5 separate regions of the Homo sapiens genome follow, and all the other regions are linked to region 3. Evidence: fine-mapped expression QTL. A gene starts in region 3. Each other region holds a variant in brackets. All regions are shown on one strand. Distances are between the middles of the regions.

Region 1 (6,463 bases), 170 kb after region 3:
AGTTCTCAGGAACTTGGAGTTCCTAAGATCACCTCAGTTAATATCTGACGACAATGTCAACGACAGGTGGAAACCACCTGTCCCTGCCTGGGAGGTTAATCGGGATAGGGATGGATGGCAGGAAATGGCTGAGGCTGACTGTGGCTGGACAACCCCTGGCCAGTGTTCCGCCCAAAACCTCAGGGAACTCGCCACCCCATCTCTGCACCTATGCCCCCAGGTCACACACTGCTGCATAAGTTCTGCCAAGCCCCAGGATACCCTGAGCCAGCTGTCCACTCTGATCGGGGTGGGGGTCATGGCTGTCATTTCCACCAAACCCTCACTTAAAATCAGTGGGGGAAAATCAACTACCAATGAAGCATATTAGAGTCACAGTGCACCAAAAACGTGGGCGAGAGGGACGTGGACACTTCAGGATGCTCCTGGCGGAGTTTCTGAGCCAGGGCTTTTCAGGTGACATGGTGTTTTATCAGGTGCCAAAACCTGGGTGTTTTGATATCTCAGCCCTTGGTGAGGCTTGCGGGGGTGGCAGCCAACACCCCCAGGCTGGGAGTGTCCAGCATAAGCAGCCTCAGTGTACCTGAGTGTGCTGCAGAAATAGCCATTTTCTATGTAAGGTGTTGCATTATTTTACCAGGGCTGTGGCAACAAATCACCATAAAGTTGGTGGCTAAAAACAATAGGAATCCATTCTCTCACAGTTCCGGAGGCCGGAAGTTCAAACTCCAGGTGTCGGTGGGGTCACGCCCCGCTGGAGGCTGCAGGGAGAACCCCTTCTAGCCTCTTCACCTTGGGGTGGCTGCGGGCAGTCACCCTTCCCTGCTTGTGGCCACCTCACTCCTGTCTCTGCCTCTGTCTTCCCCTGGCCCTCCCCTCTGTGTATCTTCTGTGTCTCACAAGGACGTGTGTCACTGGATTTAGGGTCCATCCTAAAGCAGGATGATCTCATCTTGAGGTCCTTAAACTACATTTGCAAAGAAAAAAAAAATTCCCAATAAGGTCACAATCACAGGTTCTGCTATCACATGGACGTGTCTTTTTGGAGATCACCCTTCAACCCACTCCAGTGGTGTTGTGAAAGGCTGAGGGATGTCCAGGTCGCCTGGTGACCCTGGCCAGCATCTAGTGTCAGGGGCCCACTTGGCCATGGAGGGATTCCTGGCTCTACTGTGTGCATGACCTTGAACAAGCTGCTCAGCCTCCGTCCACCTCACTCTCCCTATCTGTGAGATGGCAAGTCCTGGGCGTGTTGTGGGATGACCTGAGGCTGTGTGTCAAAGGGCATGGCACACACAGGGAGAGGACTTGCCCAGTGTCCCTGGGGAGCAGGCATTTGATGTGGATGTGAGGACCCAGTCCCTAGTCCAGCACGCATGCCAGGAAGCTGTGCTGCACCTGAGCTGAAGGCCTGGCGTGTCTATAGAGGAATCCAGTCTGTGGTCCCACCGCCCATCCATCCGTCCATCTGTCGGTTTGCCCGCTCACTCCTCTCTCTCTCACCCACTCACTGCCTGCGCAGGGCATGGAGAGCTGTCCTTCCTTACTGGAAGGAACCCACACTTGGAGTGACAGACACATCCAGCAAGAAAGCTGTCTCCTTTCTACCCCTCTGGGCCCTGCCCTGGGGACTCTTACTGACCATGGTGACGGGGCATGCTGGCTTGGGTGGGAGGCTGGGTGTGCGCTGGTATGATCTTTGAAATCATTGTCACCTCCTCTGGGGCAGATGTAAGGACTGGGCCCAAGCTCGAGCTGGCCAGCCTGTGGACTCCAGGTGGAGCACACCAGGCAGCCTCCTGGAGCCAGAAGGGAAGTGTGCAAGATGGTGGCCTGTAGGGTGGCGGCTGCTGTGTAAGTCACTTATTCTTTGACTAAACAATGACTGAGGTCCTGCTGACTGACTGACTGACAGGCTCTGTGCTTGGCCTGGATGACCAAGACCCTGTCCCTACCCTTCAGGAGATCAAGGCCTCATGGTGGGAGCAGGCTTGTCTTGTAAACTGAAATGACAGAACAGCGTGAGAACTGATCATGGGATAAGTACAAGTACAAAGTACTTTGAAAGGCTTCATGGAGGAGGGGGCATTTCACCTGGGTCTTGACCAATGAGTAGGAGTTTGCTGAGTGTGTTAGGTGTCTATAGCCGCATACCAAATTACCGCAAAACTTAGGTGCACATTTATTTGCACACATTTATTTCACTATTCTGTGGGTCAGGAATCTAGGGGCAGCTTACCGAAGAAGTTCAGGTTTAGGGTTTCTTATGATGATTTAGTCAAGGGGTTGCTGGGGCTTCAGCCTTCTCAAGGTTTGGTTGGGGAGGTCATTCACATACACATCCCCATAGGGCTGGCTCATGACATGGCAGATGGCTTCCCCCAATGTGGGCCATCCAAGAGAGGGCAAGACGGAAGCTGCAGTCTTTTTATAACCTAATCCCAAAGTGATGTTCTGGTACTTCTGCTGGGTCCTACACATGAGAAGTAAGTCACTAAGACAAGTCCACTTTCAAGGACATAAATGCCAGGGGGTGGGGATCACGGGGGGGCACTTCAGAAGCTGCTGGCCCCTGCAGTGGAGGAGTGCATGGTGGAGAGCTGGCACAGTGACCACAGTGACCTGTCTCCTGTTGTCTCCCACTGCAAGGGCCAGCATGAGGGTGAGTGAGAAGAGGAATGAGAAGTTTCCAGTTTGGGAACTAAGGAGATAATAAGGTAATCATCATAATGGAAGTATCTAGGTTTTTTTTTTTTTTTTATGTGTTTTTGAGATGGAATCTCATTCTGTCACCCAGGCTGAAGTGCAGTGGCACAATCTCAGCTAACTGCAACCTCCGCCTCCCGGGCTCAAGTGATT[A/C]TCCTGCCTCAGCCTCCAGAGTAGCTGGAATTACAGGTGCACACCACCACATCCAGCTAATATTTTGTATTTTTAGTAGAGATGGGGTTTCACTGTCTTGGCCAGGCTGGTCTCAAACTCCTGACCTTAAGTGATCTGCCTGCCTCAACCTCCCAAAGTGTTGGGATTACAGGTGTGGGCCACCTTGCCCGGTCTTGGTTTTTTTTTTTTTTTTTTTTTTTTTTTTTAAGTGTGTACTATGCCAGACACTGTTCTAATCATTAACATAAAAAGCTCTCATTCAATCAATCCTCCCATGGTTCTCTATGAGGAAGGTCCTATTCAGAGCCCCATTTTACAGATGAGGAAACTGAGGCATGAAGGTGTTAGGCAGGTGATGGAGTGGGCTCTCAGCCTCCAAGATCCGGTCCCTCAACCTCGGGCTGCACTTGGCACTGGCCTCAGAGCCGGGGCTCCCTGAGGTCCGGCGGGAGGGTCGGAGGACTTGGGGACAGCCCCACTCAGTGCATCTGCAGGCACAGCATGGCTGAATGCAGACCTCTCCAAGATCACTCCAGGTTGGACAGAAGGTGGATTTATCTGCTGTTTTTCTGTTGTGACGAGTCAGTGACATTCCCAGCAGTGAGGGGCACACATCCTGCATCAGCAAACACAGGAAGCCATCCTGTTTGGCCTGAGGACGTGCTCTTCGGCCTGGAAACATCCTCTGGTCCTAGTTCTGCAGCTGAGGTGCCTTCCTGGGCAGTGACCATCAGGCGCACATCCCCTGGCTTGGCTGAGGGGAGGAAGTTTGTCTGGGAAGGCTCTTGGCGCTGCCATTGGTACAGCCTGGAGCTCAGCCTGTGCTTCCTGCAGAAGCCCCTGCAACCCCCAGCATCCTCCTGCAGTCCCTGCATCTGTCCATCCTCTGGCTCTGAGAGCAGCCAATGGCAGAGGGAGGAGGCCCCACACTGTTGGCTGTGTCCTTTTTTTTTTTGAGACAGAGTTTCACTCTTGTTGCCCAGGCTGGAGTGCAATGGAGCAATCTCGGCTCACCACAACCTCTGCCTCCCGGATTCAAGTGATTCTCCTGCCTTAGCCTCCAGAGTAGCTGGGATTACAGGCTTACACCACCACGCCCAGCTAATTTTGTATTTTTAGTAGAGATGGTATTTCTCCATGTTGGTCAGGCTGGTCTCGAACTCCTGACCTCAGGTGATCTGCCCCCCTCAGCCTCCCCAAGTGCTGAGATTACAGGCGTGAGCCACCGCGCCCAGCCCGGCTGTGTCTTTTCCACTTTAGGGAGGCAATCGGCAGGGAGCCTCCCTGGTCACCCGGCCTGTGCAGCACTGTCCTTCCCTGGGCCCACCATCTACCTGCTCTCCCCAGCTCCCAAGTAGATCAGAGAAGGTCCTGATGAGGAAGAGAAGACCGCTGGCTGGGCAGGGCAGCTTCCTGTTTGTATTCTGGGGTCACCTTCCTGTTTGTATTCTGGGGTCACCTTCCTCAAAGGTGCAGTGCACTTGGAGCCTGAAGACCAGGTTTCTGGCTCCAGCTAGCAACATTCTGCTGGATGACCTTGGCAGGTTCCCTTCTCCGAGACCCTACTAGCTCAGGGACCGCATGTCCTGATGGGAAGCCCTCCTTCCCATCCAGCAACAGAGCTTCTCCAATTCGAGCCTGCCTGGGAGTCGCCAGGCTCTTCTTGAAGTGCAGATTCTGATTCCGCTCGTCTGGGTGGGGCTGAGATTCCATGTCTCTGCTAAGCTCTGAGGTGGGGCCTCTGGACTCACCTTTGGAGTGTTAAGGGATAACAGGATGAGCGCTGGCACGGTGGGACATGGGGACATCCAAGCCTGACCCCTGCCTGTTCCTTCATTCACCATTTCCAAAGCACTTCCTGTGTGCCTGTTGCTCTACCAAGCTCCAGGGGTCCAGGCAGGGGGCTCCCCACTGCTGGTGGGGGTCTCTGGTCAACTGTCCAGGACAGCCTGGGTGGTGAGTGCCGAGATGCAGGGGCCTGCGGGAGCTCCATGGGGTCACCTAGCTACAGCGGGGAAAGGGGACAGGAGATGGGTGGGGGCTGGCGGGCAGTGAGGCCAAGCATCACAGGGTGGGCACGCGCCCTGGCGTGTTAGCAGAAAAGCAAGCCCTTGCCCAGGGCAGATGTGTGGGTGTGAGCCGGGCATAGAGGTGGCGGGGCCACATCCTGGGGGTCTTTGTAAACCACACTAGATGCTTAGACTCTGCCCTGCAGAAGGCCGGAGCTCCAGGAGTGCTGGAGACCAGCAAGGACATTCACCTTGCCTTCTAGACAAGCAGTGGGGCTGCCCGGCCCACCCTCCCCGGGCAGAGCCGGACCTGAATCCAGATCCCCTTCCACCGAGTTCCCAGCAAGCGCTGCTCAGTCACGGTCAAATGGACGATGGCTGCATAATGAGAAATAACTCAGCCCATCCCGGGAGGGGACCCCACGATGCCAGAGGCGTGTGAAGATGGTGGAGGACATGGAGGAGACTGTCACTTGGCAGGGCCTGGGAGTAAAGAAGATCGGCTGGGGCTTTGGGCTGTGTCCTGGGTCAACTGGGTGGTAGAGGTGGGTACGATTCCAGGCCGGGTGGTGAGGTGTGAACGGAGCAGAAGAGCTGAAGCTCCTCCCCAGCCTGTCTGTGGAGCAGCTGCCCTACTCTGAGCCCCACTGTTTCAGCCCCGCCAGTCACAGTCACAACCTTCCTGCGCTCCGCTGTTCCGAGGATGCGCCTCTGTCTCTCTTTGGTCTGAGGGGTCCTCTCGGGCCAGGGCTTGCCTGACTTATCACCGGGGTACAGTGAGAGGCCCAGCCCACACTAGCGCTCCTGTAGTTAATCATAATGATAACGCCAGTGCCCTGCGTCAGCTTCCTATCATGCGAGGAACAAATTACCACAAATGTAATGGCTTAAAACAACATGATTTTGTTATCTTGCAGTCCTGGAGGCCAGAAGCCCCAAATTGGTCCATTAGGCTACAGTCAAGGTGTCAGCAGAGCTGGTTCTTTCTAGGGGCTGCAGGGAAGAATCCGATTCCTGGTGTTCCCAGCTGTTAGAGGTGGCCCTCCTTGGCTCGTGAGCCTGCCTTGCTTGGACCTCTGCTTGTCCTCACTTCTCCTTATCTGACGCTTCTGCCTCCCTCTTGTAAGGACCCATGGGATTACATTGCACTGGGCCCACTGGCTAGTCCAGGATAACTGCCCCCTCCCCCCACCCCGGTCTCTAGATCATTGATTTAATCACATCTCTAAAGTCCCTTTTGCCATGTAAGGGAACATCTTCACAGGACCTGGAATTAGGACGTGGATGTCTTTCAGGTCCAGCATTCTGTCCACCCATGTGCTGTGTCAGGCGTGGTCCTAACTAACTCAGTCCTTCTAACAATGCTGTGAGGTCGGTACTCTTAGGATGTTCTTTTTACAGATGAAGAAACTGAGGCACAGTGGGATCAGGAGATTTGGCCAGGTATGCACAGAGCCCCACGACTGGTCACATGTCTCCAGAGCCTTAACGTCTACCCTTTGAGTGTTTCCCTGACCTTAGATGAAGGGAGGCCGTGAGGATCGGTCCTGAGAGAACTGAGAGAGCCCCGCCTC
Region 2 (5,880 bases), 48 kb after region 3:
GGGGAATTATTTTCAGGTAGAACTCCCAGTAGGAAGTGATCCCTCTCTCCCAAGAAGGTTTCAGGCAGAACAGCATAGGATTTAGGCAGACAAACCTAGTGCACACCTTGCTTTCCCTCTTTCTAGATGTGCTGTCTTCGGCAAGTTGCAAACCTTCTTTGAGCCTCAGCTTCTTCATCTTTAAAACTGGACAATAATGTTATCCATGCAATTGGCTGTTGTAAATGGGTGCTTACAACAGTACCTAGCCCACAGCACTAAATGAGTGGTAGCCGTGGAAGAATTTCTGGCAGTGAAGATTGGTTGACAGTGGAATGATGCATTTAAAAAAGGGTGCAGATGCTCTTTCAAAACTGAGCATCTCCAAAGGTATCAAGAGCTCTAAAGACATCCATGACCTACCTAGTCATTCCATGTTTAGAAATCCATCCCAGGAAAGTAATTTACAATACAGTCAAAGACTTGTACACAAACATGATTTAACAGCACGACTTCTAAAGTGGGAAATGGGAAACAAATTTAATGTCCAACAGTAGAGGATGGCTAAAAAGAGTTATGAGAAATCCTCATTTTGGATTGTTAGACATGACAAATCAGGCCTTCAAAGAATATTGATGATATGGAAAAACGACCACAACACAGTGTGAAGTAGAATACAAAATTGTGTGTAGCCAGGGCCCCAGACTGAATCTAAGCTTTATCTAGCCCTGAGATTGAGGCCTGGGCATGCCTGGCAGGCTGGGGGCACTCCTGGCAGCCACCTGGAGTCTACTCGCATCCTCATGTGTCCTGGAAAAGAAAACCTGGCAGATTCTACCCTGGGATCCATGCTCAGCAACTCTGTGTTTTCTCACTGAATCCTGCTCAGAGACTCGATGGAGATGAAGAACCCAGTTTACACCAGCTGAAGGGAAAAGAAAACTGACTGGCTGATTTTCATGCAACTTCAAGCCCAGCTGGACCCAGGAGCTGGAAGGTGTCATCAGAACCCCCTGTCCCCAGCTGGCATTTAGAGACTGGGTCACCCCAAGAGGCACTCTCCACATCATGGCAGAGATAGCTGCCTGCAACCAGGATGCACCTCAACCTTCACACCCACTCCACCCGAAACAGTTGGTCCTGTTTAACCAGAAACATCCTGGGGACACTTAGATGAGCCTCTTGGAGACCCATCCCCATCCCTGAATGAGTCACGAGTGAATTCACCCCAAGAAAGAACAGGCCCTATCACTAGGAAGGAAGGAAGCATTTTTGGGGAGAAAACAAATCCTGAGGTTGATCACAAATCCTCAGTATTATTATTCTCATTTCACAGATAAAAGTTCAGAGAAGTTGAGGAGGGGAGAGAAAAAAACAGGAAAAAAAGTCGGAGAGGCTAAATAATTCGCCCAAGAGCCCCCAAAGAGCCAGGATCTTAACCCATGACTGTGGCCGCTGAAGCCTATACTCAAAACCACTCTCTCACTTTGCTGATGGGAAAGAGGAGAGAGCCAGCAGCCCAGCCTTGAAAGTGGGAGGTCACCTCGAGACCAGTTCCTGGCTCACTCCAAAGCTTCCCACCAGAATCCTAGAGGAGCTGCAAGCAAAAGTGGGAAGAGCTGTGTGCACGAAATTGCATGCCAATCAAGGAGCATAGCTGCAAGCAGCTGCGGCTAATTTCTGCTCATTAAAGCAAACCAGAAATGTACTAAGGGATATCAGGCAGCTCACAGGATCTCTGCATAGGTTGGACAACAAGGTTTGAAGGCTATGTAGCCTGGAAATAATGTTCAAAATCACTTTGCAGGACCAGGGGAGATACCCTGAGACCTCTGATGGGTACTGACACCCTTATGTGCTGCTGACTCCACCAGTGTAAGGACTGGCCATCACTGCTTCAACCCATTTCTGGAAGCCTCTAGAACTGACAGTGGGTATCTCTGCTACCCCAACACCCCCAACCTGGCATCCACACAGTGACAGACTTTTTGTTACTGGCTCTCACATGCATCTAATTGGCAGAACCCTTATCAAATGTCTGTTTCCCTGGCTGCAAGGGAGGCTGTGAAGGTAGGTTTCTGGCATTTTCAGGCTTTATAATGGGTTGGGGTTTCTCCCTTCCTCTGATACATGAAGTGGGGAAGGGGTATATCAGGATGCTGGGTGGCCAAAGAGAATGACATGTGTCACTCAAGTCTCAGTTGGAGGAGAAGAACCATTAGAGTGTGTGCGTGTTAATATGTATATGGAGTATTAATTTCCTAGGGGTGCTGCACAAACTGGGTGGCTTTGAGTAACAAGCCCAGGGCCATGCTCTCCCCGGCTTCTGGTACTTGCTGGCAGTGCTCAGCATTTGTGGTCTTGCAGCTATGCCACTCTCATCTCTGTCTCTGTCTTCCCACTGTGACTGTGCCTTCATGGGGCATGCTCCTCTGTGTATGTGTCTGTGTCTTTTCTCCTCTTCAAATCAGGACACCAGTCATATTGGATTTAGGGCTCATCCCAATCACAGGATCCTAACTTACAACTTATCTACATGTAAAGACCTTGTTTAGTCTGTTCTCACACTGCTATAAGGACATAAACTGAGACTGGGAAAGGAAAGAGGTTTAGTGGACTCACAGTTTCACATGGCTCTATGTCCTTACAGAAATATATAGGCCATGGAAGGAATCAGAGCCAAGCAGACCCTGCCTCATCAAACTGCCCACACAACAGAAAACAGAGTCCAGTTGGACATTCCTGAACCCTGGGAGGCCATCAGCACTGGGGCCTCACAATCATGGCAGAAGGTGAAGGAGGAGCAAAGGCATGTCTTACATGGTGGCAGGCAAGAGAGAAGTGCAGGGGAACTGCCCTTCACAAAACCGTCAGATCTTGAGACTTATTCACTATCAAGAGAAGAGCACAGGAAAAACCCGCCCCCCACGATTCAATTACCTCCCACTGGGTCCCTCCCACGACA[C/T]GTGGGGATTATGGGAGCTACAATTCAAGTCGAGATTTGGGTGGGGACACAGCCAAACCATATCAGACATTAACCCTTAATTACTGCAAAGACCCTATCTCCAAATAGGTCACATTCACAAGTACCGGGGTCAGGACTTGACACATCTTTCTGTGGGACATGATTCAACCCCCATCACCCTCTCTGCTTTTCCATCTTCCCTGTGCTTCCTGGGCTGCCTCCCAAATAAACTACCTGCATCCAAGTTCTTAGCTCTGGTTGTCTTCGGGGGAACCCGAACTAAGACAGAGGGCAAAGATTCCAAAGAAAACAAAGAAGAGGGAGCAAAGCCCAGGGATGAGGAGAGTTAGGAATCAAGTTTCCTTTGGCCATTGGTGAAGAAACAAGTTCAAGTTTGGGGGGACTTCCAGGAGATGGAGGAGCAAGGAGGAGCTGGAGAGCCTCAAGCAGAAAGGAGCTTCCATTTTCAGAATCTGGGGTAGAGGAAGCAGGGAGTGGGGAGAGCTGGGGAAGCTCTGGCTTGGGCTGGGGCCACATCTGTGAGGAGGTGAGCAGAGAGAGGTGGAGCTAGTCCTGAGCCTGGGGACCTGGGTAGGGAAGCCCAGACCTTCAGGTTGGGTCACGTACCCCAGCTGATTCTGGCTGTGGCTGGGGAAACTGAGGCCCAGAAACGGCCTTGGCTCACAGCAGGGACTGGAATCCTCATCTTGATACTTCCCGTTTTCGCTTTGCCCCCCGCTGCACTGAGGGGCTTCCCTGGCAGGGGTGTCAGTATGCGGGCAGGTCTGTCGAGGCTCTGCTTACCAAGTCCACCTGTGCTTGGACCCTGGTGGAGAAGGACAAACCCTATGGTCAAGCACTGACAGTCTCCCCTGGTTTGGGAACATCCACGTGGACTCCGTTTTCTGTTGTGTGCGCAGTTTGATGAGGAAGCGTCTGCTTGCCTCTGATTCCTTCCACAGCCTATACAATTTCCGTCAGGTTTATTAATATAAGAGGGCAGCATCCTGTGTGCACAGATGACTTGTTATATTCACAGCTCTTGGGATGCTCCCTGCCCCGCAGCCTCGAACCCTCGATCCTGTCAAAGCCTGGAGCCCTTGGCTGCCCTGCCTGGCCAGTGTGGCTCCTTTCCCTGAGCTGTGATTTCAGCCTGGCCCTGGCCAGTGGCAGAGTCCATGGGCACATGGGGTGATTTGGTGGTGGGCAGCGGCCTCCACCTGAATAGGGCTGGTTTTGTCAGAAAACACCTTAAAATCACTCTCCGAGAAGAAAATATGTTTGATTTGGGGGCAGCAGGAAGAGTCTGGTGTCGTTTACAGTAGTTATATAGTTTTCAGCTCCTACTCTTTAAACCCTCTGCAGGAAGTAGAACAGAATTATCTGAAGCCTCTTTTCTGTTCTGCAAGAGTAGAATTTGTAATCATTTTGCCCGGACCAAAGCAGACACTTCTGTGAAATCCGCAGAGTTCACAGTTGTGGATGGAATTGCTCCCAAATGAATGGGTGTTTGAGCCACTCTATGAGTTCATTGTGGCTTCCATGGCAAATTACCACAAAGTTGGTGATGTAACACAACACAGATTAATTATCTTATAGCTCTGGAGGTCAGAAGTCCAAATCTGTCTCACCGGACTAACATCAAGGTATCAGAGGGCTGGTTCCTTCTAGAGGCTCGAGGAGACAGTCTGTTTCCTGCCTTTTCCAGCTTCCAGAGGCTGCCCTGGCCTTGGCCCCTGGCCTCTTCCTGTGTCCTCAAAGAGCATCTCTCTGGCCTCTGCTCCTGTGGTCGTATCTCCTTCTCTGCCTCTGAGCCCCAACTCTTCTCTCTTATAAGGACCCCTGTGATCACATTGGGCCCCTGAATAATAATCCAGGATAATCTTCCATGTCAAGATCCTTAATGTAATCACACCTGTGAAGTCCCTTTTACCATATAAGGACACTGTATTAGTCTGGTCTCATGCTGCTAATAAAGACATACCTGAAACTGGGTAATTTATAAAGGAAAGAGGCTTAATGGATTCACAGCTCCACGTGGTTGGGGAGGCCTCATGATCATGGCAGAAGGCAAATGAGGCGCAAAGGACACATCTTACATGACAGCCGACAAGAGAGCTTGTGCAGGGGAACTCCCCTTTATAAAACCATCAGATCTCATGAGACTTATTCACTATCACGAGAACAGCATGGGAAAGACCCACCTCCATGATGCAGTTACCTCCCACCAGGTCCTTCCCAGGACATGTGGGAATTATGGGAGCTACAATTCAAGATGAGATTTGGGTGAGGACACAGCCGAACTATATCGGTCACATAGGCTCAGTTCCAGGCATTAGGACTGGGCATTTTTGGGGGCCATTATTTGGATACCACTGCCAGCAAAGCCCTTCCCCTGGCTCAGCCTCTCCAATCCCCCTCACTGCCCTGGGAAGTGGAGGGAAAGGGTCTGCGTCCCCATTTCATGGAGATGTCCAGAGGTTGTAAAGTGAGTGTCAGAGCTCAGTGGAACCAGGGTGTCCCTATTCCAAGTCCAAAGCTGTTTCTGCCAGCTCACACAAACCCACCCTGTCGACAGGCTCCTGCCCAGTGACCAGGCATGTGGTCACTGGCTGCCAATGAGGCCCATGTTTTAGACCTGGTGCCACTATCTGCCTAAGGTTGCACCGTCAGTAAGTTTCTTAACCTCCCTGTGTCTCAGCTTTCTATAGATATCAACATTCTTCTCTCATAGGTTATTTGTGAGGGAAAAACATAATTCTCTAAACCACTTAATAAATGTTGGATATGTAGTAGCTGTCACTGTTATTAATAACAATAGGGCAGGCTCATGCCTGTAATCCCAGCACTTTGGGAGGCCAAAGCAGGAGGACTGCTTGAGCCCAGGAGTTTGAGACCACCCTGGGCAACATAACTGGGTTGGAACTGCATCAACA
Region 3 (6,463 bases):
ACGAGGCCCCTTCAGTCTCAGTCGTCAGGGAGGGTCTCACCTGGGGGACGGGAAGGGGTTGCAGCCTGAGTTCGTAGGTGGAGCTTGGCTCCGGGAGAGAAAAATTAATACTCCCGTCAGGCACAGCCTCATATGAGGACCCATAGACGAACGGCAACATTTCTGAGTCTCTGTCTATCATTCCCAGTTCAGAACGTTTACCATCGATCACTCTCCCACTGTCCTCGATGCCTTGCTTAACTTGCTCCTTCCAGATCCCTGCCTTTCTGGACTTAAAGGAGGTTTGCTCTCCACCAGACCTAAATACCTGTCCTGACTTGGTGCACTGGGAGCAGGAAGGATGCGTTACACATGTTGCCCAGACTTCTGCTGCGAAGACATCTTTTTAGGGTGAATGTAATCTGGGAAACAAAATTTCTCCTGCAGGTTAAAAATCACCAAACACTTATTTTCTCTGTGTCGTTATCAGTTTTCCTCCTTGGCTGTCAGCTTGGATTTTCCTTTTTAATCATTTGAAGCCCAGGTATATGCAGACTATACTAATAAGAAGTCAGGACGAGTGGGACAATAAAGGAAGCAACGCAAAGCAAGAGATCTGCATAGCCCACCCGTTGTTTTTCTGGCCACTAAATACTAGAGAGTTGTCTGTATAAGAAAATCAATGATTCTTTCCTTTTTTAAAATACAGTTGCAGCTTTTTTAGATGACCAATGTCGCAAGATTTTTGTTCACATCTGTTAAAGGAGCATTTCTGGAACTTCTCCCTCCTTACTGAAGAGACTCATATGGGTCGGGCATGGTGGCTCATGCCTGTAATCCCAGCACTTTGAGAGGCAGAGGTGGGCAGATTGCTTGAGTCCAGGAGTTCAAGACCAGCCTGGACAACATGGTGAAACTCCATCTTTACCAAAAAGATATAAAAATTAGCTGGGCGTAGTGGCATGCGCTTGAAGTCCCAGTTACTCAGGAGGCTGAGATGGGTGGATCCAGGAGGTAGAGGTTGCAGTGAGCCATGACCATGCCACTGCACTCCAGCCTTGGCGCCAGAGCGAGACTCTGTCTCAAAAAACAAACAAACAAACAAACAAACAAACAAAAAGGACTCACATGGTGTTGCCTGATGATGTGAAACCCCTCGCAAGGTCAGGCACCTGAGGCACTCAAAGGACATTTGTCGAATGAACTGATGAAATGAATTTAGGTCTTGGATGTCTGTTATGAGGGCCATGGAGTTTTGCTCTTGTTGCCCAGGCTGGAGTGCAATGGCACAATCTTGGCTCACCACAACCTCCTCCTCCCGGGTTCAGGCGATTATCCTGCCTCAGCCTCCGAAGTAGCTGGGATTACAGGCATGCGCCACTGTGCCTGGCCTGAGGGCCACTCTTTATATCCTCAGGTTTTATGGTCCCCATATAGTTAATTACTTGAATTATTAATAGTTTTTAGAGACTCAAAAATCTTTGTAATGTGCACTTTACCTTTATGTTTCTAGATTGAACAAATAAAATACATACAAATAAAGCAGCTCTGTTTCTTGGTTGAAAAGAAGCAGCTTTCAAGTTCAGGTCTCTCTGTCAAGGCCACATTATGCTGAAAAACAACTCTAGTACAGAGACCATAAAATGTTATCATGCTTTCTGGACCTATTGCATTTTTCTGATAAGAGGAAAGAGATAAAACCCAGACATTTCCAGCAACTTCTTGCATATGAAACTCCTTAAAGAGCACCTTATCTGTGAGCCCAAAGACATTGTAACATACTTTATGTTACCCCTGGATCCTGGGTGTCATGTGCCTCTCCTGAACTCACCTGCTCCTCCTTGACAAGGCATAACTCGGGAGTCTTGGGCTCTATAAGAGTTCCAAGAGCTGGGCATGGCCCCACATACCTGCCCAGGTTTATAGAGCAGGACCATGGAGAAACCATTCCTTTCTGACCCCTTGGGCAGAATAACCTAACTTCCAGGAAGTTAATCACATTGTATTGGGTGCTGTGGAGGAACATGAAAGAAATAAAAGGCAATGTTCTGCTCTCAGTGAGTTCTGGAGAGCCCATGGCCACAACAGTCTGAGAGAGTGACCTTGGTATAGGGCAGATGGAGCCCAGGGGGACTGAATCCCTTTTGGTGTCTTGCTCTGCACATCTGCAGATACTGGCTCTGCTGTTCACAGCTCTGCACCCATATCACTTTCTTATCCCTACCATTTAGCATGGACTTTACTTTCTGCTTAGCTAAGACTTATCTTAGCCAGTTATGTATGTTGGATGTCTTCCAATTGCTCCCCTACCCCGTCTCCACCCTTTTCCACCCTGCTGTTTGTCCCAGGAGGCTGAGCTGTCTTAAAGGGCTCCCCTGGCCTCTGGCCTCCTAATGGCTTCAGCCCATGTGGAAGCCTGACAGGAGATGCTCATTGTCCAGCTCCTTCCCATGCAGTTGCTGATGACTTTGGTGACCAGATAGCCTTTCCCACACTCCTCTCTTTGGGTTCTGGAATTCTGGAAACCCCACTTGGAGGCCGTTGGGCCTAGGATGGATAATGGCCCTCGCTGGTGCATGAGACCCAGGTTATTTCTCCATCCCTTGTGGTTTACTTGCCTACATTGATTGATTGATTGGTTGATTAAGATAGATGGTCTTGCTTTGTTGCCCAGGCTGGAGTGCAGTGGTGCAGTCATAGGTCACTGCAGCCTCAACCTCCTGGGCTCAAGTGATCCTCCCACCTCAGCCTTTGGAGTAGCTGGGAACATAGGTGTGCCACCACACCAGATTAATTTTTATTTTTTTTTGTGGAGACGGGGTCTCACTGTGTCGCCCAGGCTGGTCTGGAACTCCTGGGATCAAGCAATCCTCCTGCCTCGGTCTGCCAAAGTGCTGGGATTACAGGCATGAACCACGGGCCCCCACCACCACGTTTTAGGAAATGTTCACATTGGAGTGTGCCCTCTGTTTCCAGCTGGGCCCCCGACTGGTCATTGTGGTCTAATGGAGTGTGGTGCCGGCAGCTGCCAGCGCCTGCCCTCTGAGAGGGGTGGCGAGGGGCACACAGGACCAGACTGCCCCTACTGTTGGATGACTGGGTAAGTCGCTTTCCTTCTCTGGGTCTCTGTTTTCCAATATTTAACATCTTGTTGTGGGCTAAGTGAAGTCCAAGTCCCTTCCGATTCTAACATGAGGTTGTCCCGGAATATCTATTTTGTGTTCTGAATTTAATAACCGGCTGTGGAGGGCACCACAGGCAAATCTGTACTGTGAGTGGGTTGCTGCCACTCAATTATCTGACAGCAGCTGCGAACAGGTGGGCAGTGTGTTTTCCATAGGCAGCGACGACTTTTGGAGGTGGATTCAGAGGCACAACTAAGCCGCGCGGCGCATCAGGGTTCAAGGGCATGGGGCTCCCGCAGCTGTGGCTGGGGCAGAGCTGGGGCTGGTCCCTCCCTCCAGGAGCACAGGGCGGGCGGTCCAGCCTCACGTCTCTCGGCCTCCAGCCACACCCGGCCCGCGCAGTGGGGGGCCCAACAGACTTTTCCTTTTCGGGCCTCAGTCTTCTCGTCAGCAAGGGCGGACAAGGACTCTTCTCGTCCCGCCAGAGGAGGCGACCGAGGGGCCTGAGCTCAGGTACAGGCCGGCGGGCTCAGGAGGCGCGAGCGCGGATCGAATCCGCGGGAGGAGCAAAGATCCTTGATGCGCGGCCGGAGGGCGGGGCGGAGGACGGGACCCACGCGATTGGTATCCTGCCCTCCGCCCCAGCCAATGAGCGGCGAGGGTGTCTTGGGGGCGGGGCAGAATCAGCCTTTAAGTTGCAGTGACTCTCCGGCGTCACTGTTGCGCTTCATAGACGCCGCGTGTACCCGGTTGTCCTCAGGCGCTGTCAGGTACCGTCTGGGCGCCGCTGTCCTGGGGCTCTGGTTCGGGCCCTGGCCGGGGTTCCCTGACAGCGGCGGGGGAGGCGGGCGGGCGCGGGGTGGCCGCGGCCCGGGTTCGGGGGATGCTGGCTGAGGGGGCGCGCTGGGCCTCGGCCGGGGAACGAGCCCCGCTTCAGCGGCCCGTTTACTCTGCGGGCGGCTCGGACCCGGGCGCCCTGGAGTCTCCGGCCGGCGCGCAGCTTCAGGGGGCAGGGGCGTGGCGACCCACGGCTTGCAGGCCGGAGTCCTGGTTCCAGCCCAGAGCGGCCGACGGGCGGGCGGCAGGGAGAGGCTGAGGATGTGGCAGCCCCGCCTGCCAGACCGGGCGGAGCCGCCGCCCCCTGCGCTCGCGGCCTGTGGAGGCCAGGACTCGGCCCACCCGGCCCAGAGACCCCGAGGCGCCCCGGGGTTCCGGGTAGGAGGCCTTTGGGCACCCTTGGTTCCTGGGGTTGGCGGGGAGGCTGCGTTCTGGGGACGGGGGAGCTGTGCAGTAAACCGGTGGCCCTGGTCACGCGGCGGGGGCGCTGATGCAGCCTTGGAGGGCTGGGTCCTCCCGGCCTGCTCCTGCGCCCTGCAGATCGGCCTGCCCATCGCTCCCCTCTTCCAGCCTATGATTTTTTTTCTCCAGCCTCTGTCGAAATAAAGAAAATTACGGAAGCAGAACCTTCCTTACAGTAACGTGCAGGTTAATTAGATGGTGGGGGATGGGGGGGCAACAGGACTTTCAGCATGAAAACCTCCCGTTGGGGGCTTTTTGCAAACCCTGCTGAGCATCAGTAAATGGGCCTGGCCAGTGCGTTTCCTCGATCGCCTTCCCGGGCGGGACGGGAGGGGTCATTGTCCGCCCTTTGCTGGCGAGAGGACTGAGGCCCGAAGTCACCTGGGCACTCGCCCTGTGACCCACCGTCTCCTTTTGTCACTCTACATCTTACCTTTTCGGTGTTCAGTTTTACCTCTTAGATAAATTACGGTGATAAATTAAGGGCGAACAGACAGTGACTTTGGAATGAAGTGGCTTTACCTTAAGAAATGACTAATGTTCAGTTTCCAAATTCTAAATTTCTCCTTCTGGGATTGAAAGGGTTTCTGTGGATAAGCTAGTTCTTTCAGTTAACCCCGGAACTGTTCTTTAGATTGTAATCAATCGCTCTTAGCCATGTGAAATAACAATAGACTCCTTTCATTAGAATATCCTGGTTCTGTCTTTAGATGAATCTTTTCATAAAAACGAGCGTTAAATTAAAAAGCTTATTTTTAGCCCGGCACGGTGGCTCACACCTGTGTAATCCCAGTATTATGGGAGGCCCAGGCAGGCGGATCACCTGAGGCCAGGAGTTTGAGACTAGCCTGGCCAACATGGTGAAACCCTTTCTCTACTAAAAATACAAAAATTAGCCAGACATCGTGGTGCGCGCCTGTAATCCCAGCTACTCGGGAGGCTGAGGCAGGAGAATTGCTTGAACCCGGGAGGCAGAGCTTGCAGTGAGTTGAGATCGTGCCACTGCACTCCAGCCTGGGCGACAGACTCCGTCTCGAAAAAAAAAAAAAAAAAAAAAAAAGCTTATAGTTTTGGGTTTACAGTTTTTCATGGTGTTTAAGATTAGTTTTGCATCCCCCCCCCAAAGAAAAATCCAGTATAACTTTAAATAGTAAACATTTTTAAAAGACATTTTTCCCTCAAAGCAGCTGTCTTAATATGTATTATCCCCATAGCGTGCCTTTATTACAGTTATTTGTGTGCATATTTTATGCCCTTTAGTGAGTTCTTGAGGACCTTTCAAATCTCAAACATTTACAAATAGTGATGAATGCACGAATTTGGATGTGTGTGGAGGATGTGCTGTAGTTGACCCCGGTCCTTTCTCAGTAGTAAAACTAGTTGTTTGCCAATGATGCACTTGGCTTGAATTTTAGCCAGAATACTGATTACGTCAAAGAGACTTCTGTTGGTAGAACTTTTTTTTTTTTTTTTTTTTAAAGGCCTGTATTTGTGAATGGTTACCTCAGGAAAAGTAAATATTTGTCAAAATAGCAAGAACAAATTTACTCCTCAAGTTGAATATTTTAAGTGGCTTTTGGACAACTTTACGCCGACTATTCTTTTAGAGTAAGAAAATAGTTTTTAAGAGTATAGGCTAAATTAACTTCAAAATGCAGCCTTTTGTGGAAATTCTACTGTAGGTATGTTCTAATGTAGATGGATGGGCTAGATGGAGGGAGTAATGGTAGCCTGAAGGACCCTGTTAATTACGTGGATAAAACCTTCAGTGTTAGAATTCTAGCTTGCCAAGAGCAATTTGTTCTCATTTCCAGGACCTGAGTATGGGCGTCAGGTAGATGCATGATAGCTGCCTGGAACACATTATTTTGACCTTTGAAGGCCATTAGATCTAATGAAGTAAACTCTTGATGAAGAGATGAGTTATTCTAGATGAGGTCAGAGAGTGAACACCCCCTCTTAGAGTTAGACTCAACCTGGTCAGGGATAGGTGATCCCATGGTCTTGATCACTTGCTACCTTGACTCCCTCAGGAGTCCTAAGTAAGACTGACCTCTTTA
Region 4 (6,463 bases), 150 kb after region 3:
TGATTATCACAAGAAGAAGCGAGCCATGTTCATAGGAGGCAAATCCGGGCTCCTGTCTGGCTCAGGAGAGGCTCCAAGAAGCAGCTGAGGGGCTGGCCTCTCAGGGACAAGCTGAGGCCCATAGGGAAGACAGCATGGAAGGAGGTGACCAGAGAACACGCTGGCCTCTGCTGGAGAAGGAGAGCAGAGGACCCTCCTGTTCAGAAGAGTCTGTCATCTTCATCCTGTGTGCAGCTCTTAGTACAAGTGGGGCTGGGATCTCTCCCCACAGCGGGCAGTGAGGTGGAGGTAGGAGGTAATAATAATCACAGGAGCCTTTGTGCCAGTTACATCACTGAAGGGTCATTATAGCGTTTATTCTCACAATAATTCCTTGATCCAGGTATGGGTATCATTCCCATTTTATGGACAAGAAAACTGAGGCTCAGAGATGTTAACTGCCCAGAGATGGGCTGACTCTTGAGAGTGAACATATATTGAGCACACACTATGCGCCAGGATGGCGCTTTGCATCTGTTACCTTGCTGGTCCTCACAACAGCCCCGTGCGGTAGGGCACTTTTGTTGGCAGTTTGTTGATTGGATGATTATCACAAGAAGAAGCGAGCCATGTTCATAGGAGGCAAACCCGGGCTCCTGTCTGGCTCAGGAGAGGCTCCAAGAAGCAGCTGAGGGGCCGGCCTCTCAGGCACAAGCTGAGGCCCATAGGGAAGACAGCATGGAAGGAGGTGACCAGAGAACACGCTGGCCTCTGCTGGAGAAGGAGCGCAGAGGACCCTCCTGTTCAGAAGAGTCTGTCATCTTCATCCTGTGTGCACTCTCAGCACTTAGCGTCGAGGTAAAGATGAGTGTCAGAGGGGCCACAGAGGCAGACACCATGGCCCTGTCATGTGGGGCCATGTGTGCTTCTTAGGAATTTGGACATGGCCCCAGGGGAGCGGGCCCACTCTGTATTTGGGAGGAGGCTCCCGTGGCAGCTTGAAGGGGAGAGGAGCAGGCAGAGCTCTGCCTGGGGGAAGCTTTTGTAACAGATGCTCCTTGCGGGAGATGATGGGCAGAATGGAGGTGGTGGCTTTGCATCTGCACATAGTAGGCACTCAGTAAAAGGTGCCTAGTGACAGGAAATGGGGAGGAGGGGATGTGTTTGGGAGCTGTTTAACAGGTGGCACTAATAGGACTTGGAGATGGGAGTGGCAATGGGGTGTGTTATGAGTGGGAAGGCAATGATGTTCATATTTCTGTCTGGGGTAACTGGGGAGATGGGAGTGGCTTTCCCTGAGATGGGGACACCTGAGGAAGGGCAGATTTGGGGCCAGGAAGGTAAGATTCACTTGGGACATATTGGGTTCAACTTGTCCATCTCTACCCCGCTGGGGTCATGGTTTGGGGAATAATTGTCAGAGCTGGGCTGGCCTCTGGAGGTCTTCCCCCAGCCCTTGCTTTCACTGGTGGGAGAAGGGACTCGAAAGCTGAAGGCCAGGCAGCTACTGATGCCTCCATCTCCGCCCTGACCACCTGCAGATAAATCACCAGTGGAAACAAGTTTCCCCTCAAGGCTTCAGGTGTTTCCCTAATTTGTTCCTTAGAGCATTGTCTCAGGAACAGCATCCGGAGACACCTGTTTTTCTATGCGGATGTTTTCCACCTTGCATCCCAAGGAGACAGACTCCTCGGAGCAACCTTGGTAATAGCCAATCAAATGGCTTGCACTGCCAGTGCTCAGTCTGTGCTTTAGAAAGAGGAGATGTCCTTGGAAAAAAGGTTTTTGTGGTCACATAAGTTAGGGACAGTCTGGACTCTACTCGTTAAACAGGGCTCTGTGCTGCAGGACATCTCAGGGCCTTTAGCCAAGTCAGTCTTCAAGAGGGGCCTCCTGTGTGCAGGGCTTCTCAAGGACATTAGACCAATGAACACCTTGTCCATGGAGCATCTGTCTGTCTCCCAGACCTGGTGCTCTGGGGTTGTGTTTTTGGAAACAGTTGTCGGAGCTGGACTCACCTCTGGGGGTCTTGCCCAAAGCCCGTCATTTCACGTTGGGAGGGAGAAAGGAATTGCCAGACAGAGCCAGCAGGGGTTCCCTGGGCTCAGGACCTCTGGCCAGGCTCCTTCCTCCTGTGCAGGCCTCCTGGTGCCCCTGCCTCCTGCTCGGGGACACTTGTGTCCAAATTCCTGGGTCCCCAGAGGGACCAATTTTTCTTTCCAATGGGCTCTTCTGGAAGGGGTTTGGAAGGGTGCACTGGTCTGGGCTGTGCCCCCATCTGTGTCCAGGCCTCTGATGTGGACCTGTGGGAACCTTCCTTGCTGTACCTCCAGCCTCAGAGACAGCCATGTCCTAGCCCTGAGTCGGATACTGAGTAAAAAGCAATCATGACCCCCACATTCCCTGGCAGGGCCATTTGCAGGCCTCAGAGGGGGGATAATGAGTGTCTGGGTGGTGACTGTAGTAACAGGAACTCTGTGGGCCAGTGACAAGGCCCAGCTCTGGCCTCTCTGGGCCTCCCTTAATAGCCTGTGGATTGCAGCATGGATGGCAGCCAATGCCATGGGCTCTGACAGCTGGAAGCGCTCAGTGTCGCCAGCCTAGGGGGACTGCACTCGCTGAAGTGAAGCTTGAGGCTGGCAGAGAGAGGCCTGCATGTCAGGAAACCCTGTTCATATGACAGATTTGCTGTGTGACTTTCCTGTAAGGACCACCTCCCAGGAAGGACACAGGAGCTTCCTTGATTCCTCTGGCAGGTTTTTATGGAGAGCTGACTCAGCGGCAGCCTCGCGTGAGGCCCTGTGTCCCTGTGGTGTGCAGAGAGATGGCATCTTAGTTTGGGTTCCTGGAAGGCCAGGCCTGAGACTTGGGTGCAGGTGGGCTATCGGAGCAGATCCCAAAAAGTGGAGGCATGGGAGTGTGGAGAGTAGGAATAGGAGGAGGAAACACGAACACAAGGGCTGTTGAGATTGCTGCTGTGGGCCCTGAGGCTTGACACCATTGAGACCTCCTGGGTAGGGACAAAATTGTCCACTGGAAGGGCAGAGGACAGCTTACCCACTGGCTCACGACACCCCTGGTCAGAGGTTTGCCCTTGGGGACTTCACCCCCACACTTCCAGCTGTGTGTGCTTGGCCTGGGCAGACTCCCATGTGCCTGGAGACACGCACGAGGCAGGTGTGAGACCAATGCTTTCAGGGCCAGGGAGTGTGAGGTCAGCTAGCGCCTGCCACCAAGATGCTGAGGCAGAGGTGGGCTCAGGGGTGGGTGCCTCGAGGGGCACCGGGGGTGTCTGTCACATGCCGTTTGTCTGTCCCTAGGGCATGGTGAGATTGGAGGGCCTCCAGCTGGTGGAGAAGAGAGTACGGAGTGAGGCCTGAGCCTCCTGTCCCAGGGCGTGTCTCCCGCCCGGCTTCCATCGCAGTCCCTTCATTACCCTTGCACGACACCACGGTACCTTGAGCAGACCAAGGTAAAGGGCTTACTTCTGGAAAATGTGGTCAGAGGAGTCCAGCTCCCCAGCACACCTTCCTGGCCCGAAAGCTCTCTGGAGCTCTAGAATGTCCTTCCAAGGTGCTGAGTAATGATTTACTCATTGCTGTCAGATAGGGAAGTCTTACCCAGCTTCTTGAAAAACCAAGTTAGAAAATCAAGCTGGGCTTTTTTTTTTTT[C/TC]CCCATAGAAGCTGAATTAGTAATAGAATTTTTAAAAATGTGGTCATGAAACTGTTAGTCTAAACTTGAACATGAGCCCTGCTAAGGTGGCTGAAATGGTTCCTGAAACCTGGGGGCTGCCGGGCTGGTGGAAGAGCTCCTCCTCCCTGTAGGGCATACCTGCGAAGCTCCTGGCTGGGGAAGCTGCACCGCAGGGGATGTGCATTCTCAGGACCCGGTGTACTCCTCGTGGCTCTTGGTGGGCAGTGGGCATGGTTTCTGGAGGCGCCGTGGAGTGGCACTAATTCCGTCATGCAGGGCTGTTCCCCAGCTGAAGGAACCTGCTCTTTCTGCACAGCCAGGTTTGATGTCAGGATAACTCGAGTGGAAGTGAATGTCCTTTCCTGTCTTCTAGGAAGGTTCCCCAGGGAGGCTCCAAGGCAGAGGTGTGTCCCGGGTCTGGGGGAGGGTGGAACAGCACCACCTGAAAGCAACTGGGCCTGGGGCAGCCACTGGGGAGCCCGGATGTTCTGGGCACTGTGCTGGGGCTGGGAGTCAGGCAGGGGTGGGTATTGGAGAGCAGGGCTGTGGTGGGAAGGACAGAGCCGGTAGGGGCAACAGCAGCAGGAACAAGGTCTCTAGTCCAGTGGGTCAAATTCCAGGTTCCAGAGCCCTGGGTGGGAAACCACCATTGCCCCACCAAGGCCTTGTCCAGCCTTGGCTAGGCCAGTGGTTTTCAGCTTAGCCAGGGACCCAGCAGACACAGGCATCAGATTTAGGAACAGCACAGGATGGAGAGAGAGCATTTATACTGGAAGCCAGAATTAGGATTAAAACAAGATCCATTGACTGGGGAGAGGGACAATCTTGGCAGAGGAGAGGATTCAGGAAGAAGGGGACAAGTCCTGTAAGGGGTCTACTGTGTGAGTGCAGGGGGCTGGGGTGGGGAGGTGGAGGGATGGAGTCAGCAGCCTAGATAGCACATGGCTGGGGGTCTGCATACCCACACCCTCCACTGGGAGGGCCCCAAGGCCATGTCTGGGACGTGCCCCTCCTGGGCTACCACTGATTGGATGAGAGAGGGGGCTTGATCTAGGGGGATCCAATCAGATTCAAATCCAGGGAATTTGGGATTGGATCAGAGATGTTGGTTGGTTGGATGGTGGCACTGGAATGGAGACAGCCATGCACATCGGAGTGTTTGAGGCAGGTGCAGGGGCAGAAGATCTGCAGGAGAGGGAGGATGAGAGCCTGAGGGCCCGAGAGGGGGTGAGGATCTGCACAGCCCTGGGTAGGGCGAGTGGGGGTTGAGAAGGCAGTGGCTCGAGAAGGCAGTGGCTCCTTCCAAGCAGAGTCTGGTCCCCACTGCCCGTTCCCACACTTCCTCAGTTCTTGGGTTCCTTGATGTGTTCCCATGCCGGTGGTTTAAGTCCACTGTTGTGAGCTGATCTGAGTAGGCTTCATTTACTGCACCTCAACAGGCCCTGGAGAGCCGGGGACCTCACTGTCATGGTGGGACAGATGCCTACGGGAGGAGAAGTGGGCAGGAACAGGGCCCGGGTGGGAACGAGTGGGCAGTACTGCTGCCCTCTGCGTGGCAGGACCACACTAGATCCCTGCAGCCCACTTGGCACCACCTCTGGAGAAGGGCAGCTCAAGCTGGTGACTGCTCCGTGGAGGGTGGCCCTGGTGTCGAGGGACCTGCCCCCCGGCAGCGAGGAAGGACTGCAGGGTCCCACCTTCCACCTGGAGAGAAGCTGAGTCAGTGAAGGACGGAAAAAGCATGTTCGATGTTTGAAGACTTGTTAGAGGAAAAGAGGAGACTGTTCTGTGCTCTCCAAGGGTCTTGGGTTCCAAAAGTCGAGGGTCCACTGTTGGCTCAGTGTAGGGGAAACCTTCTCCTGTGCCAGCCTGCTACAGCACTGGAGGCCTTGGGCATAGGAAGCTCTGCATTTCTGCAGCTGAAGGACCACACTCCGAAGGGTGCTACAGGGCCTGCAAGTGTGGCATTGATGGTGTGGACTGGACGATCATAAAGAACACCTTTACCTGCAGAGAGGACTCAGGCCCAGGGCAGAGACAGCCCCAGGCCATTACGGTGAATGTGAGTCAACTGCAGAATCAGATGCGCCCCTGGCCCACAGGACAGGCACATGTGGCCCCTGATCCAGATTGAGCCCGTGGAGCAGCAGAGGCTGAGAAAGAGGAGGAGCAGAGATGTGTCTCTGGGATGAGGCAGCTGCAGTAGGAGGAGAGCTCGGAGAATACGCAGAGATATTAACAAGGGATTTTAAAGACATTTTGCATTGAGATGTGCAGGGTCATCTCTTCCTTTACCTCCCCATGAACATTTCAGTGAAATCTGCCAGACTCACCAGTGCTATTGGAGTTGGACTTCTCTCTGGGAGTGGGTATGTTTGGAGTGGGAGGGGGCCCTTGGGTGGGAAACCCAGTGACCTCTTAGGGGGAGAGCAGGACAGGCCCAAGGAGGCTCACATGCTATATGGGTTACACACCTTGTTCCTTTCTTTTCTCAGGGTCTGGAACGAACTTCCTGTCCAGGTGGCTTTAGGTGGTCCCTATGGGTCACCTCCCCGCCAACCTCAGGATGCCCTTCTCTTTGCCAGACAGCTGCGGGTAGACTCAAGCCACAGGTGCCCCTCTGAACCCCTTCACCAAAGCCCGACCCAGAGCTGTTCCTCTGCAGTGAATGTCCCACTGCCCCGTGTCTGCTAACTGGAGATTGAGAAGGAAAGGAGGCTATTTGAGAAGTTGGCCTAAAATGATTATGGTCCCTCTCCAGGGAGACAGGTCACAACATGGGAGAGCATTC
Region 5 (6,463 bases), 38 kb after region 3:
GGGACATCCCTACTGCAGGCCCCTCACCTCTCACTGGGGCCTTGGCCCTGTGAATTCCTGTGTGTGAATTATTCTGTGACGAGGATGAAGGGAGAGCTGGGATTCCCATCGGTCCCCTCTCAAGGACTCAGAAGAATGCTCTTAGACAGGTGAAAAATGGAAAAGCTTTGCTTAGCTAGCAGATTGCTCCTAAAGCAATTCACAGTTTGGATTGAAAAAGTGGGTTGCTGTTTCTTAGGCTGTCCCTTGGGATCCTGCCCTCCGAGGCTTGGCAGGTTTTTCATTCTGGTGAGAGAAGTCTTGGCTGGGGTCCTGTGAGGCTGAATGGAGCCCAGAAGGGCCACCAGGTGTCCTGATTGCAGAGGAATTCAACTTTGTTGGTTCCTTGCCTCTGCTTTGGTTTTAAATGAAGGATCAGTGGCCAGGGAGATTCTGGAAATAAATGTGAGTTCCTCAGCCACCGGAGAGCTAGCCCAACAGCGGCTTACACCTGTAATCCCAGCACTATGGGAGGCTGAGGCAAGAGGATCGCTTGAGCCCAGGAATTTGAGATCAACCTGGGCAACATAGTGGGACCCCATCTCTAAAAAAAAAAAAAAAAAAAATTAGCCAGAGTGGTGGCATGCACCTGTGGTCTTAGCTACTGGGGAGGCTGAGTAGATGAGCCTACTGAATCAGCCAGCAGATGAAGACATGTACCCTCCACTATCTTGAGTTATTCATGAGGTAGGAGGATCACCTGAGCCCAAGAGATTGGGGCTACAGTGAGCCACGATTGTACCACTGCACTTCAGCCTGGGTGACAGAGTGAGACCCTGTCACCCAGGGTCGAAAAAAAAAAAAAATAAAGACCCTGAACTATGTCTGTCATTTTTAGGATCGCAAAGACTCAGAGTGATAGCTGTTGATTCCACATGCTGGCCAGAGGGGCTGGCGGTGTGGGTGAGGTGCCTGCCTGGGGCTGCACATGCAGCTGACTCAGTGGTACATAGACTGTGCTTGAGTCGGGAGAGGGCCCTCAGTCAGGCAAGGTGGCCAGGTTGGGGTGTGTCAGGGAGTTCAGCTAGATTTAATTTTATTTAGAAAAACTTTCAAATGAGATATTTATTGAGTCTGAGTGTCGTGGAGCAAATTCATGCTTCTTTACACAAATAAAAATAATATTTGTGACTGGCAGCTGCTTTGTAAGTCTGTAGAGTGGATTCCTGTGCTTGGGGTGGACCTATTTGGTCAGTGGGGGCTTAGAGTTTTTTTTTTTTTTTTTTTTTTTGAGACAGAGTTTCGCTCTTGTTGCCCAAGCTGGAGTGCAGTGGTGTGATCTTGGCTCACTGCAACCTCTGCCTCCTGGGTTCAAGTGATTCTCCTGCCTCAGCCTCCTGAGTAACTGGGACTACAGGCATCCGCCACGCACCTGGCTAATTTTTTTTGTATGTGTAGTACAGACGGGGTTTCAGCATGTTGGCCAGGCTGGTCTTAAACTCCTGGCCTCAGGTGATCCGCCCGCCTCAGCCTCCCAAAGTGTTGGGATTACAGGCGTGAGCCACCACGCCTGGTCCCTTAGGGTTTTATGATGTCTGTTTTACAGACAAGGGAGCTAAGAGTCTGCCTAGCACCAACTTCACATGATGTCGGCGGCAGAGCTGGGGCAGGGTTCCACCACTCTGGCCCTCTGTGAGGCTAGAGGTCTTCAGTCTTTGGAGCACTCCAGGGACATGTGGCCACTTTTACAACATCTGTATGCCTTGTCTGGGGTGGGCCCGACACATACGTGTGTATATATACATATATAATTATTATTTTTGGAGACGGGGCCTCACTCACTCTGTCACTTAGGCTGCAGTGCAGTGGTGTGATCATAGTTCACTGTAACCTCAAACTTCTGGGCTCAATCACTTCTCTCGCCTCAGCTTCCCGAGTAGCTGGGACTACAGGTGTGTGTCATCATGCCTGGCTAATTAAAAAAAAATTTCTGGCCGGGCACGGTGGCTCACGCCTGTAATCCCAGAGCTTTGGGAGGCTGAGGTGGGCAAATCACAAGGTCAGGAGATCGAGACCATTCTGGCCAACATGGTGAAACCCCGTCTCTACTAAAAAATACAAAAAATTTAGCCAGGCATGGTGGTGGGCACTTGTAGTCCCAGCTACTCTGGAGGCTGAGGCAGGAGAATGCCGTGAACCCAGGAGGCAGAGCTTGCAGTGAGCCGAGATCGTGCCACTGCACTCCAGCCTGGGTGACAGAGCAAGACTCCGTCTCCAAAAAAAAGAAAAAGAAAAAAAAATTTCTTTTCTTTTTTTTTTGAGAAAGATTCTTGCTCTGTCACCCAGGCTAGAGTGCAGTGGCATGATCTTGGCTCACTGCAACCTCTGCCTCCCTGGTTCAAGTGATTCTCCCGCCTCAGCCTCTGGAGTAGCTGGGACTACAGGCATGCACCACCATGCTCGACTAATTTTTGTATTTTTAGTAGAGACAGCGTTTCACCATGTTGGCCAGGCTGGTCTCGAACCCCCCTGACCTCAGGTGATCTACCCGCCTCTGCTTCCCAAAGTGCTGGGATTATAGGCATGAGCCACCACACCTGGCCAAAATTTTTTTTTTTTTTTTTTTTTTTAGAAATGAGGTCTTGCTATGTTGCCTAGGCTGGCCTCAAGTAATCCCCCCTTCTTGGGCTTCCAAAGTGTTGAGATTATAGGCGTGAAGCACTTCCCCTGGCCTACATGCATATTTTAACAGACTTTCCAGGTGCTTCTGCAGCATAGCCAGGGTTGAAAACCCCTGGAGCAAAGTTTCAGTGATCAAAGCAAGAAGATTCAATTGGATCAGCAAGTCGATGAAGAGATGTACCGTCCACTACCTTGAGCTAGTCTTGACTTCCTCTAGTGACAATTGTTGACCGGTTTGTTTTCCTGGAGTGCACCAGACCATGCAGTTGGGATTATGTGTTCAGTGCTGACCCACTGCCAGCATTGGGAGTTGAGAATCCATAATTCAGCCACCTTTATTGAGTACCTGCTGTGTATGAGGCCAGGGATGCTGAGGCGGGTACTACAGAGAGAACCCTGGATGCCGGGACACTCATTTTAGCTTTACACATTCTGTGGCTCTGCCAGGGGGCACCCATCTGTGGCATTGCTGGGGCAGGGTGATGACAGAGGCTTCTGGGTGCTTCCAACTCTAGATGGGGTCTTGTCTTTACTGTCCTTGGGTGTCCATTCTGGCTCTGACATGGTTGGCTGGGAGCCCGGGACACCCAGCTAACCTTCCGTGCTCAGGGTTCTCTCGGTCAGTCCAGTTTGCATTGATCATAGTCCATAATCCCCTGAATGCGACATCAATTAAACAGTGTCCTCCACAGGAAGGGCTTTGATTTCTTTCCTCAGCTCTGACGGGCGGCTTTATTGATGTCGCTGCTTCTTTCCGATAGTGCTTGCGAAAGCCGTTCCTGTTCTCCACCGCGAGAGGTGCCTCTTGTTTCCAGTGATTTATTGCACTTACAACGTTGATGTTTACAAAGAACCGCATATTTATTCAAGCACAGAAGTTCGTTTCCCGCAAATACACGTGTGAAGGAAAACCAGATGAGTCAGAGTGTGGGAGGCCTTCCCAGCAGGATGGATGTTGGTTTCCTTGATTTCCCCAGCACACCTGCCCCTGCCTGGCTGGGCATCTTGAATCAATTTGCAGACAACTGCCAAGAAAAGCTTGAGGTGCATTATTTTCAGAAATTGATGAGCAATTCGAAATCAAACCAGGGTCTATTGG[G/A]TGTTTACAGTGCCAGGATCTGAGCTAGGGGCCAGAGAATGAAAGCTAAGAAAAGACAGATAGCATCTCAAAGTCGTGGGGGAGGAGAGACAAAAACAGCAAAACTCATACAAGTCAGGATGAAGAAGTGGTTGGGACAGAGCTGGGGATGAGCACTGAGGAGCTGGGGCATCAGAGGAGGAGCTGGAGTGTCAGGGCAGTGCACGGAGTTGCTGTGGAATCGGGAGGAGCACAGAGGAGCTGGGAGGAGCTAGGGAGTCAGGAGAGGAGCACAGAGGAGCTGGGGAGTCAGGGGAGAAGCATGGAGGAGATGGGGAGGAGCTGAGGAGTCAGAGGAGGACCATGGAGGGGATAGAGAGTTGGGAGGAGCAGAGAGGAGTTGGGGAGTCAGGAGGAGCATGGAGGAGATGGGGAGTTGGGAGGAGCACAGAGGAGATGAGGAGTCAGGGGAGGAGCATGGAGGAGATGAGGATTCAGGGGAGGAGCTGGGGAGTCGGGAGGAGCACGGAGGAGCTGCGGAGTCAGGAGAGGAGCATGGAGGAGATAGGGAAGAGCTAGGGAGTCGGGAGGATCACAGAGGAGATGGGAAGGGGCTGAGGAGTCAGAGGAGGAACGTGGAAGAGCTGGAGAGTTAGGGGAGGAGCACGGAGGAGCTGAGGAGTCAGGAGAGGAGCACCGAGGAGATGGGGAGGATCTGGGAAGTCGGGAGGAGCACAGAGGACACAGGGAGTCAGGGGAGGAGCATGGAGGAGATGGGGAAGAGCTGGGGAGTCAGGGGAGGCTCACGGAGAAGATGGGGAGTCAGGAGAAGAGCACAGAGGAGGTGGGGAAGAGCTGGGGAGTCAGGGGAGGAGCAGGGGAGTCGGGAGGAGCAGGGAGGAGGTGCCATTAAATCAGGCCTTGCAGCCTGGGAGGAGTGTGACCCTCAAGGGAAAGGGAGTCAGGCCCAGGGGTTGGTGGTGGGACATGGCTGCTTCTGCTTGGCTGCAGAGTGGGCAGAGTAGATTGAAGGGAGCCAGCCAGGCAAAATTCCCCGGGACCTCAACCTTTGAGGACACAACAGCACCACAGAAAATAAGCCGAATTGGCAAAATGTAAAAAGACCCCGCCCCCATCACCGTGCAAGGCTCTGGGAAGTGGAGAGAAATCAACAGCCTCTCAAAGTGCCTCAATGGCAGTTGCCGGGCTGGAAAGCCCCATGTCATCAAGCCTTTACCCTCCACACAGTGGAGGCAGCACTGGTTCCTTCCTGCAATCGACAAATACGTTTGAACAAATAGATGAAGAATATCAGTTGGAAGGTACCCAATTATAAACCTTCCTGGATACCTGCTGTGAATCTGGCTCTTAGAGTGGGGCACGTGCACTGAGCTATGGGAAACCCCTTTGGTCCCCAAGCCGAGGGCCAGGAGGCACTGGATGGCCACCTGCCACTCATCTGCACTCCTGCAGTGAGGGGGCTGGGCAGGCCCTCCACGGCCTGTGCTGTGGAACTGAATGGACTGGGGGAGAAGCTGGATCCACTATGGGCCGTCCTGGCTGGCACCAGCGGCCCCTGGGGCAAGCCTGTTGCTCCCTGCAAGGCCTTCTCAGCAGCAGGGAATCTCCTCCCTCTTCAACAGTCTTTTCACTGGACTAGGACTCCTGCCACCCTTGGAAAGGCCAGGGAGGGGATTGTACACACAGCGCCTGGGATTTTTGATACTTAAAGGGGGCGAGACACTCCCCCCTCACCGTTCTTGGCAAATGCCTCCTGAATGAGGGATGCCTGCCTGCCAGCTCCCCACGCTGAGATCTCTGCTGACAATCGGGAACAGCCAGCGGGAGGCTAGAGATTGATGACTAAACCTCTTGGAAGTTTCAAGCCTCAGGTACGCCCTCGGTGTCAGAAAGGCCAAGAGAAGCAGCCTCGTTGGTTGCCTACGGAATACCTCCGGGTGCCAATGGGCGGGCCTTGCCCAGCTCAGACTCCCTCGGCTGTGGCTTTGCCCATCAAGTAGATCTGCTTGGAGTGAACTAGGGGCTGAAGGAAAATTGATATAAAAGTAATACATGTTCCTTGAAAACCTCTTAATAATAGAAAAATACACAGAAGGAGGGTAGAATCATCCATAATCCCGTCTGGCAGATAGAGCTCCTGAAGATGGCTTGCAGCTTTCTTTCCGGGCCTTCTGTCCATATCCTTGCATAACTATCCTTCCAAAATTGGGCACTGTGGGCACCATGGAGTCTGGGAGGACTGAAGTTAACTTACCTTCCATGGTTACTTGAAGGGTAACATTCTTGGCCACCCTTGGCTCTGCAGATGTCGAGCAGACAGGCCCTCATGCTGCGTGGGTGGGCAGGTGTACTGTCCACCTGCCCCTGGTGAGCCTGGGTGGGCCAAGAGGGGCGTCAGCACCACTGGCCACACCCAGCATCTTCTTTGCATCTGTCCTGACCCTTTTCCATCTGACCTCGTCTACATAACCTTCTTCCTTCTTGGACTCAGGCCTCCTCCATCCCTCCTCACTGCATTCTCCCTCCCGTGAAGGCTGATTCTTTCCCCAAATGGCATCTGCGTTTCCACGCCACCAGGTTTGCAATAAACATTCTGGGGCTAGGCTGTGTTGGGCGGGCAGGAGTTGGCAGTCTTCAAGAGGACAAGCCCAGTGCCCAGTTATTCTTCCCTTCCCCTGCCCTCTGCATCCCCTCCCTCCCTCC

Direction of the effects. Positions count from the first base shown, and alleles are read on the strand shown. Sizes are in standard deviations (SD) of each study's normalised expression. Not every link is listed here.
In carriers of allele A in region 1, the expression in monocytes of the gene that starts at base 3,824 in region 3 tends to be higher than with C alone (moderate effect, 0.68 SD a copy in Schmiedel 2018).

Evidence for each region.
Region 1: its variant is fine-mapped to the expression of OAT in monocytes (Schmiedel 2018, PIP 0.95).
Region 2: its variant is fine-mapped to the expression of OAT in whole blood (TOPMed, PIP above 0.99).
Region 4: its variant is fine-mapped to the expression of OAT in monocytes after R848 (Quach 2016, PIP 0.95).
Region 5: its variant is fine-mapped to the expression of OAT in whole blood (TOPMed, PIP 0.99).

The regions. Positions count from the first base shown.
Region 1 is chr10:124,243,120-124,249,582 of GRCh38, reverse strand. No RefSeq gene overlaps it. Among named protein-coding and RNA genes, the nearest start is that of CHST15, 150 kb to the right of the region's middle. RefSeq lists an enhancer at 1,554-2,054. The variant A/C (reference allele first, on the strand shown) is at 2,860.
Region 2 is chr10:124,368,833-124,374,712 of GRCh38, reverse strand. No RefSeq gene overlaps it. Among named protein-coding and RNA genes, the nearest start is that of OAT, 47 kb to the left of the region's middle. The variant C/T (reference allele first, on the strand shown) is at 2,945.
Region 3 is chr10:124,416,284-124,422,746 of GRCh38, reverse strand. It overlaps OAT (ornithine aminotransferase), which reads left to right and starts at 3,824. Exons shown (of 10, transcript NM_000274.4): 1 at 3,824-3,874. RefSeq lists an enhancer at 2,635-3,149 and silencers at 3,123-3,782, 3,725-4,264.
Region 4 is chr10:124,263,719-124,270,181 of GRCh38, reverse strand. No RefSeq gene overlaps it. Among named protein-coding and RNA genes, the nearest start is that of OAT, 150 kb to the left of the region's middle. RefSeq lists an enhancer at 1-378. The variant C/TC (reference allele first, on the strand shown) is at 3,652.
Region 5 is chr10:124,378,180-124,384,642 of GRCh38, reverse strand. No RefSeq gene overlaps it. Among named protein-coding and RNA genes, the nearest start is that of OAT, 38 kb to the left of the region's middle. RefSeq lists an enhancer at 4,610-5,327. The variant G/A (reference allele first, on the strand shown) is at 3,761.